2 separate regions of the Homo sapiens genome follow, and region 2 is linked to region 1. Evidence: fine-mapped expression QTL. A gene starts in region 1. The other region holds a variant in brackets. All regions are shown on one strand. Distances are between the middles of the regions.

Region 1 (5,391 bases):
GTTACAAATTTTAACAACAAAAAAAAGCTATTATTTACCACTGCTTTTAAAGAGCAAGAAAATAAATTGTAAGCTAAGTTCTTTTCATTGGTCTATTAATGCTTACTCATTATTTCATATATACATGTGAAGCATACATTTTATTCATATTATCAGAAAATCTTATGAAGTAAGTCTGTCACTAGAAAAGATAAAACTATAACTTATACAGGTTGTAAAAAATTCTGTAATGGTCTTTCAAAATACAGGTACTTTTAACACCAGTATCTACTAAAGGAATACAAATGAGAACTGGGTTAGAATCACTTCTAATAAAATCTATTCATACACCTGAAAATTTTATTTACTTTTGAACAAATAATTTTCAGATTACAATAACTGTAAAGCATCTCTGAAAAATCAAAAAGTGCAACATCCAAAGTTATAAAGCAAAAACAAAGGTAATTAGTTCTTGTAGGGAGGTATATGGGAAGTTGTATCATTCTGAATTTTTTTGTTTTTGTTTTTTGCCCAGCATCAGAAGATAAGCCACAATCTGAGTTTTATCTTCAAGAGCAGGTACTTGGGGATATAAATCACTCATACACAAGCATTTTGCCCTCATTTTTCCACCATGTAAATTAAAGTATTATAGAAATTGAAAAATTGTATAGGCTGTATTTGTTGCTTGGTTAAACAGGCAATTCTCATTCCCTGAGATCAGATTAGGTTACAGATATCTCTACATTGTATACTTAGAAAAAGATTCCTGCCAACAAATGTTTACATTAACTTATTTGTATTGATAAAGCACTAATCAAGATGCAAAAAAAACTTCAGCAGTTTCTCACTTCCTCTCTAAAATACAAAGTATTCACAAAAATTATTACAATTCAAGCTCTCAGAAAATATGAGAGAAAAGTACCTTTTTTACAGTAAGGATCTTACAAAGTCAAGAAATAAGTGAGTAGAGTGGAACATGTTTTGTCTTTAAGTGTATTTTGTATTTTTTTCTTTAGATTTAACATTATAATAGAACTACAAACTAAACAAATTCAACATACAGAGCTTACTAATTATCTTGGTCCATTATAAAACATTTCAATGAACTGGGATGTGAATATAGACACTTAACCATTTCAGCCAACTATGATTCTTAACCCTTTCAATCTGCAATAGTTACCTTACAAAATTGTGAGATTTATTCATTGACGTTTGGAAAGAACTGTTGTCAATTATGCCAAGCATTCCCAAACTCAACATCAACCTTGCATGTAAATGGATACTTTAAAATTTCTATCTCATCCCTCACCCCATACTTTATTCTTTCCATTTATATTGCTTCAAAAGGGAAATCAACAGTCACACTTATGATTCCGAGCTCTAAAAATTCCTAATATTAAGCATGACACTAAATATGTTCAACTTTGAACCTTAAATTCAAGTTGGCCTCCCTCGTGAACTGATTTTAACTGAGTACTTTTTACCATTTCGCCAAGAACTAAGGGTTCAAAGCAGTGTACTTAATTATGAGGAATTGCCCAAACGATTTTAAAAGGAGTGGGATTCTCTGACCAAGACTTTTATGAAAATGAAACAAAATATGTTGCACTCAGTCTTCCGGATGTTGAAAAGTGAAGATGTCTCCAAGGATTCGAAGGAAGTTGATGTTTAGGTTCCCTCTGAGAGGGTGGTACCCTTAATGTAAGACTTTTGTGGTAGTAATACCGTACCTACAGGCCTGGAATAAATATAAGGTCTAAAACCTTGGAAATACTTTGTATAAAAGAAAACTCCAATTCTCTTTTGCTAAGGACCACAGTTACCAAGAGTTATCAGCTTTCACCCGGACAGACAACAGTGCTTCAATGAAGAACTACAAAGGCCTCTTTTAACCCTACTCTTTTCTTCTGTTAAACTTTTAAGCGAGACCTACGACAGCAAAAGGTGGAGAGGCCCCTGCGGAAGTAGAAACCCAGGACTTGCAACTTCACAGACAGAAGCGTCTGTGGTTCCTCCGCCGCCCCAGGATCATCCGGACTCAGTCTACGACACTACGGAAGCTTCACCTTCCTGGTGCGGTGGCAGAGGCGGCATCGCAGTTGCATTCCTTCTCCCTCCACCATGCACAGCCTTCGGTATCCCAGGGCCTGCAGGATCCTGACACCCGTTAGCCAGTCCAGTGTCTCCCATCTGACACTTGCAAACACACTAACAGAAATACACATAACTGGCAGATGATATACGTGTATTGAGAGAAGGTAAGAAGCCACAGACAGCACCAGCTGCCGGGAAGGCGGCAGAGCCGTCTAAAGCGGGCTCGAGCTCGTCGGCCACGGCCACGGCCGCTGCCGCCTTCTCTTCTCCCCCAGGAAGCAGCGCGGCGGCAGCGGCTCCTCCGCGCTGGCGGGAGCCTAGGGGAGTGGAGTCTGGGGAAGCCCCACCACTCGCGGATGGGACCGGGCCTAGGATCTGGAGCTGCTGCTGCTGCAGCGGCCCGAGTACAGCGACGCTTTACGTCCGGTCCACCACCACCCCCATACACACCCCCTCCCTCCCTCCACCGCCGCCACCCCCCTCCCCGCCCGCTCCGCTCTCCGTCTCTCGATTGGAGCCGAGACAAAAGCAACGGGAAGCGGTGGGCCGGGACGCTACCGGCGGACCCTGGGCGCGACCGGACCGGCCCCGGGGCATTCCCCCGCCTTGCGGGGGCCCCGAATCTGCCGCCCCCGCCGCGCGCCCCGCTGCCAGACTTCCGAAAATTTACCAAAAACTCACCGCATGAATTTTCTTGTCCCGCGGATCCAAGATGGCGACGTATCCACCGCGGAGGCTGCTGGGAGCAAGACCTTTACCCTCTGACCGCCGCCGTGACCCCCGTCGCTCCGGCTTCCCTCCAGGCGGCAGCGGAAGGTGGGAGCGACGACTGCAAAACGGCAGCGATGGGGTGGGTAGGCAGGCCGCTTTCAGCGCGCTTCTAACAAGGTGGAGAGAGGCGCTTCACTTCCCTACCGCCCTTACCGCCGCTCCGTCTTGTCTCCCACCGACTCACAGGGAGGCTTGCTGCTCCTCCGCGGCCGTTACAGAGAGCGGGGCTTCTGCGGCCGCTACCGTTTCCCTGGGGCTAGGTTGCTTCGCAGAAGGCTCTGGCCCTGAGTCCGAGGGGGACTGCGGGGTCCAGGGGCGATGAATGGTGAGGTGGCTTCAGTCCGCCCTCCCCGGGGACGCTGAGCGTGTTCGTGTTCGTGTTTGTGTTTGTGTTTGTGTTGGACACCCCCGCCCCCGCACGTCCGCCTCGTCACTCCTCCCCTCCTCACTCCCGCCACCTGGAGCGAATCTGATCGTGTCCCTGTTTCCTCCCTCAGCTCCCGCAACCTCCGGAGCTTGTGCGCGTACTTCAGGGACCGGCACCACGTCACCGTCACCTCCTGAGTAGTGAGTTCCCCTCTGATGAAACCACTGGTGTGTTTACTCACCATCCCCACCATTTTTTTTTCCCCAACCTGATGGAAGGAAGTACATAATGGAGAGCAAGTTTTTAAAGCACGGTCGTGTCGTGTGAACTTGCTCTAGCCAAATTAGGTTTATAGCACTTTTTTTGGCTCTCATTACCTCCAGTCCCCACATAAACAAGAGTGACCAGCTGGGTCATCCGCAAGACCGTTTGAAATTATTGTGGCTTGGGTGGAAACTTAAAGGAGTGAAGTATCTGCTTTCCAGAAAAATCGTTGTCATTCAAAGTGAAATTAAACTTGTTTTCTTTGCAATAATTCGCCTTTATTTCCTTGTATATCTGTAAACTCTTCACTTTTTTGTAATTACTAGACAATTCGGACTTAAAAAGAGCCTCAGCATGTGTATTTTGGAATTGTGTAGCTTCATAATGTGAAAATTATTCTTTTCTATTTGAGTAAAGTACAGTTAATTTGAAGTAAATAAAATTTCTATTTCCATTGGTTGTTTCTTTTAAAAAGTCACCTTTTACTTACAAAAGAATCACTGTAATCCAGTTTACATTTATCATTGAAGGTCAAAAGCAAGAAATAGGAAGAAACACAAGCATACTATAAAATAAAAGGTAACTGTCATGTTTTTGAAGGTAAGGTGTTTTGACATATCAGCAGACATTGTGTGAATTTATTTCAACTCCTAGTGGTACTGGTGTAGGTAGAAAATGTTTTGCTTGGTTATTCATTTCATCAAACACTCTACTTCACTGTTTTTTTTTCACTTCAGGAAAATTCGAGGAGGAACAACACATACTAGTGTCTTTCCTTTCTTTCTCCCCGTCTTCTGCAAATAGTCCCTTCCTCTTCCTGCTTTCTCCTCCTTCTCATGTTAACATCTTCAACCATAAGATGGTGTGTTAAAAGATTGAATATACCTCTATGGAATGACTTCCAGAGGGTGTAAGTCTGATATGAGAGTTTTATTACCTTGAGTATTTTACTGGAAGAGATAGAACAACAAACATTTTCATAATAAATGTGTGGGTTAGGAGTGTTAGGAGAAAATACACTGATACTATTACTTTCAATATTTGATACTACTTACTTTGACTCTCACTGAACACCTATTTGTTTAGGATGAATTCACTTTAAGCCGGGTTGAAGAACAAGCCTTTAATTGTCCTATTATTTGTGCCAAATCTATTATAAATTTGTTAAAAAATTTTTAATACCTACCTTAGAGGGTACTCTAGGTATTTAATGAGCTAGCATTTGTTAAAGGCTTGTATAGTAAGAATTCTTATAGTAAGAGTTCTTACCAATAGATGGTATATTTTTTAAATTGTCCTGTTGCATCAAAAAGTTCATCTTTATTGGTAATGTTGATTAAGTTTGCCCATTTGGTAGTTTGGTTTCTTTTAACTATCTTACTAGATTTTCTTACTTTTACCTGAAAAGTAGTCCTTACTAATAGGCACATGTTTTGTATATTTCCAAAATATGTATTATGTTAAATTCTCTGTACACTTTATTTAAAAATTACAGACGTTGAGGGAAAAAAAATACCCTATTAAGGGAAGAATGAGTTTGTGTATAACTTGTAGAAGAAGGAGGCCACCCATTTTTAGAAAAATATGGATGGTATTGAAAATTTTGCCATGGCAAGGGATAAAAAGGACAGGCTTCTCTAATGTGTCTGAAACAACATTTGAATCCCCTTTGTTCATTCCCTAAATCTGCTGCTCCTTTAGAATTCCTGATTTTCATAAATAGTACCACCATTCACTTATTTGCTCAGGCATAAAACTTGGAATTTTCTGATTCTTCACACTCATACAACTCATCAGACAGTACCATCAGTTCTTCCTGACAAATACATTCTGAATTTAGCTACTTATCACTTCCACTGGTACAACCCTTGGGAGCCACCATCATCTGTTGCTGGACCACAGCAATAACCACA
Region 2 (5,391 bases), 55 kb before region 1:
GTGACATGACTGTATATCTAGAAAACTCCAGCATCTCAGCCCAAAATCTCCTTAAGCTGATAATCAACTTCAGCAAAGTCTCGGGATACAAGATCAATGTGCAAAAATCACAAGCATTCTTATACACCAATAACAGACAAACAGAGAGCCAAATCATGAAAGAACTCCCATTCACAATTGCTTCAAAGAGAATAAAATACCTAGGAATCCAACTTACAAGGGATGTGAAGGACCTCTTCAAGGAGAACTACAAACCACTGCTCAATGAAATAAAAGAGGATACAAACAAATGGAAGAACATTCCATGCTCATACGTAGGAAGAATCAATATCGTGAAAATGGCCATACTGCCCAAGGTAATTTATAGATTCAATGCCATCCCCATCAAGCTACCAACGACTTTCTTCACAGAATTGGAAAAAACTACTTTAAAGTTCATATGGCACCAAAAAAGGGCCCTCATTGCCAAGTCAATCCTAAGCCAAAAGAACAAAGCTGGAGGCATCACGCTACCTGACTTCAAACTATACTACAAGGCTACAGTAACCAAAACAGCATGGTACTGGTATCAAAACAGAGATACAGACCAATGGAACAGAACAGAGCCCTCAGAAATAACGCCACATATCTACAACCATCTGATCTTTGACAAACCTGACAAAAACAAGCAATGGGGAAAGGATTGCCTATTTAATAAATGGTGCTGGGAAAACTGGCTAGCCATATGTAGAAAGCTGAAACTGGATCACTTCCTTACACCTTATACAAAAATTAATTCAAGATAGATTAAAGACTTAAATGTTAGACCTAAAACCATAAAAACTCTAGAAGAAAACCTAGGCAATACCATTCAGGACATAGGCATGGGCAAGGACTTCATGTCTAAAACACCAAAAGCAATGGCAACAAAAGCCAAAATTGACAAATGGGATCTAATTAAACTAAAGAGCTTCTGCACAGCAAAAGAAACGACCATCAGAGTGAACAGGCTTCTACAGAATGGGAGAAAATTTCTGCAATCTACTCATCTGACAAAGGGCTAATATCCAGAATCTACAATGAACTCCAACAAATTTACAAGAAAAAACAACCCCATCAAAAAGTGGGCAAAGGACATGAACAGACACTTCTCAAAAGAAGACATTTATGCAGCCAAAAAAACACATGAAAAAATGCTCATCATCACTGGCCATTAGAGAAATGCAAATCAAAACCACAATGAGATACCATCTCACAACAGTTAGAATGGCAATCATTAAAAAGTCAGGAAACAACAGGTGCTAGAGAGGATGTGGAGAAATAGGAACACTTTTACACTGCTGGTGGGACTGTAAACTAGTTCAACCATTGTGGAAGTCAGTGTGGCGATTCCTCAGGGATCTAGAACTAGAAATACCATTTGACCCAGCCATCCCATTACTGGGTATATACCCAAAGGATTATAAATCATGCTACTATAAAGACACATGCACACTTATGTTTACTGCAGCACTATTCACAATAGCAAAGACTTGGAACCAACCGAAAGGTCCAACAATGATAGACTGGATTAAGAAAATGTGGCACATATACACCATGGAATACTATGCAGTCATAAAAAAGGATGAGTTCATGTCCTTTGTAGGGACGTGGATGAAGCTGGAAACCATTATTCTCAGCAAACTATCGCAAGGACAAAAAACCAAACACCGCATGTTCTCACTCATAGGTGGGAATTGAACAATGAGAACACATGGACACAGGAAGGGGAACATCACACACCGGGGACTGTTGGGGGGTGGGGGGAGGGGGGAGGGACAGCATTAGCAGCTATACCTAATGCTAAATGACAAGTTAATGGGTGCAGCACACCAACATGGCCCATGTATACATATGTAACAAACCTGCACGTTGTGCACATGTACCTTAAAACTTAAAGTATAATAATAATAAAATTAAAAAAAAAATAAGTCTCATGAGATCTGGTGGTTTATACAGGGGGGTTCCCCTGCACACATTCACTCTTGCCTGCCGCCATGTGAGACGTGACTGCTCCTCATTTGCCTTCTGCCACGATTGTGAGACCTCCCCAGCCATGTGAGTCAATTAAACCTCTTTCCCTTATAAACTACCCAGTCTCGGGTACGTCTTTGTTAGCATGAGAACGGACTAATAATACACTAGAACAAGCCACTCCAATAGCCTCCAAACAGGTCTTTATTAATCTATTCTTCTTCCCCTCAATTCTACTCTCCCACATCAAAGTGATTTTTTAAAGTAAAAATTATTTATCTTCATGGACTTTCTGATAAAAATTCCTCAACAGCACTCCCAAATCAATAAGGCTTATAAGATGTTTTGTAACCTCTAACTTCTCTCCTAAGTCCCCTGACACCACCAAACCCTTGCCATACCTTCAGTTACTCAGAACAGAAGTTAGTTTCCATGTCCCGGTCTTTGCATATGCTGATACGGCTACTTAAAA[T/AT]GCCCTTTCTCCCATTCTTTGAAACTTTCACACTAAATTAGGACTCTTGTTTTATACAGTCTCTGAAAACACTTTATCATAACTATAAAATAATAATAAATTATTGTGCCAGGGAATATTCTAAATGCTTTAAAATTTATTTATGTAATTATCAAGATAACGCTAGAAAGTAAGAACAATTAACTATCCCTATTTTGTAGCTAAGGACCAGAGAAGTTAGGTTAACTTCCTAAGGTTATATATCTGATAAATGCGGAGATGGGTTTTGAACCCAGACCAATTTGCTGGAGTCCCCCTTTTTAACCATGATAGTACACTGACTCTCAAATATACAACTAACAATTTAATGTGTGTTTTGTTCTTGAATTTGTAAAGGGAAAAGCAGTAAGGAGCAAATAAAAAGCCGATTGGAGGAGGAAGGTCCTTATATTGTGAACAATGGTAAGTAGGGTATACCACAATCGAATATTTATGTGTGTCAAAAAGATCACTTTAGCACAAGAACAAGAATGGACTGATTATGACTGATTATAGACATGTGAGACAAAAGCCAGTCTCTACAAGACTAATCACATGTATTTTACAGAAAGTTGCATTAATTTGAAAATGAAGTTATGCTTAAAAGAAATACTATTATACCAATTAAAAATTATTATCCACCAGGTGCAGTGGTTCACGCCTGTAATCCCACTCAACTCCCAGAGGTTGAGGTGGGTGGATCACCTGAGGTCAGGAATTCAAGAGCAGCCTGGCCAACATGGCGAAACCCCATCTCTACTAAAAATACAAAAATTAGTTGGGCGTGGTGGTACGCACCTGTAGTCCCAGCTACTTGGAGGCCGAGGCAGGAGAATCACTTGAACTTGGGAGGCGGAGGTTGCAGTGAGCCAAGATGACGCCACTGCAGTCCAGCCTGGGTGACAGAGTGAGACCACGTCTCAAAAATGAAAACAAAAAAAAATTATTATCCAAGGAGGGCTTCAGATAAGTAGAAATAACTACTAAAAGCTATATATACCTGGTTTCCATGTTCCCAAAGAACTAACATTTTTAGGTACTTAAGTATAGTGAACACAATTTAACCTTTCAAGGAATTAGGATAATTATAACCAAACTCTTAATTTCATTATAATAGCTCTAATGTAGACATTATAGCATTACATATGTAGGGCACATCTAGAACTTGTGTTAAAACAAAAACAATTCCCTAGTAGCAACTTTTTATTGTAGATTCTCTAATGTAGGGAGGAGTTTTACTGCTAACATGTTGGTACAGGTGTCACACGATAAAATCAATTGTCTCATTCACTGCTTCATACTGAGTAACAAATTTTCACTCCCAGCTACAGAGTTTGTAGTCTGCTTGCATTATACAAGATGAAGACTGCTAACTGCAAGATATACAGTACCTGAGAAGGGGGAAAAAGTGTTTCTCAGGCACTGTTTTCCTAATGGAGATCTGAGTAATTTAGAATTTGAGTTCTTATTTTCTCTCTGAATTCCATATTCAATATCAACAAACAATATACAAATATGCACAAGTTCTTGGCTATAAAATAGGCAGAAACTTAATATAAAATCACAGCCAACTGCCATTAACACTTATCTGCCTTTTATCAAGGTGTAGCCAATTAACATCTGAAACCAATGATGAGGAGTCCTAATACCTGAAGATAATCTAGCGTTTTTATAATTGCCCTTTAGAGGGAAAACATGATAGGTAAAAATCTCACAGACTGCCCAAATTCTATGGAAGTAGAATATTCGTATATCAAATATTATATTGTTACAACCTGGAAATATTTGTTAACAAAGATATTTTTGTTTCAGTAGTATTTTTTGTGATAGGATTTTAAACTGCTTATCCTGCTTCGCAACTACTATAAATAATTCTAATTTTATTTAATTCTTGAAAAACAATTTAAAAAGGGGGGGGGGCTTAAATAAAGGACAGAAAGGCACCTACACTGCACAAAAAAATTCTAGCTTCTTAAAGAACAAAGATATTAATACCTGGAAATCTTTACCAAAAAAAAAAAAACTCTTCATGTGAGAAACAAATTCAAGTCCTCCGAGTTCTAGAATACTATGGTTTCATATTTTTAATATGATATAGGTATAATGAAAAGTTCATGAATCTGCTTAGGATGGATCTAAGAAAAGTGAAGATATAGATAAATTTTAAAGTCTAGAATTACAAATCATCAAATCGATAGCATGGAAACAAATAAGAGCAACTCATTGTTTTAGCCAATGCAGAATAACCATAAATAAGCAAAAAAGGCCTCAATGAATACCAAAGATAGTTAACATGTAGATACACACACACACAAAAATCTATGACTGGTTGGAAATAGGCTTTAGTAGAAAGCTAGGGACCTATACAAACACTTCCACAATCACTATTTTGGAGAGTAGATAAATATCCTGGCAGAGTCCTTTCCAAGGTTTACAGAAATATTTAGCATATTTCTGTGTATTTTTGGGGGGCTCATCCAATAAAACAAGATGGCCTATATCTGAAAGATGGGGAGGGTATGTGTGTGTGTGTTGGTGGGGGAGGGGAGGGTGGAAAAACACATCACTCTTTCCTAATCCAAAAACTAAAATCTGGTGTCTGAAGCTGCTTTATTCAGAAAATATTCTGAAAAGCCATGTATGTTATCCCTTAATATGCACCCCCAAAGTCTACAAATTCTCTAGGGAGTGTTACCAAAATGCTACAAATACCTCCACAAGTTTGACTCTGATCTAGGGAGAATATGTTCTGTATGTTTCAACATGAATAAACAGATTTTGTGGTTTTCTAGAATCTTAAAATGTGCTGCACCAATATGCTTTATATAGATTCACATTTGAACAATTAATATATAAGCTTTAAAAGCTAAGTGCATCATCCTAAAACCAAAATTCTAATTATTCAAAAA

What was found. PIP is the estimated chance that this variant, and not a neighbour inherited with it, causes the effect. A credible set is the group of variants that fine-mapping cannot tell apart.
Region 2: its variant is the best candidate, but not a certain one, in a credible set for the expression of CNOT2 in whole blood (INTERVAL, PIP 0.63).

The regions. Positions count from the first base shown.
Region 1 is chr12:70,240,847-70,246,237 of GRCh38, reverse strand. CNOT2 (CCR4-NOT transcription complex subunit 2) reads right to left here and starts at 2,805. Exons shown (of 16, transcript NM_014515.7): 1 at 2,758-2,805. It overlaps PRANCR (progenitor renewal associated non-coding RNA), which reads left to right and starts at 2,878. Exons shown (of 5, transcript NR_120460.1): 1 at 2,878-2,926; 2 at 3,345-3,414; 3 at 4,009-4,057. RefSeq lists enhancers at 2,076-2,215, 2,946-3,145, 2,320-3,519 and silencers at 2,516-2,775, 2,847-3,386.
Region 2 is chr12:70,295,769-70,301,159 of GRCh38, reverse strand. The region is part of intron 2 of CNOT2 (CCR4-NOT transcription complex subunit 2); the gene reads right to left. Among named protein-coding and RNA genes, the nearest start is that of CNOT2, 55 kb to the right of the region's middle. The variant T/AT (reference allele first, on the strand shown) is at 2,465.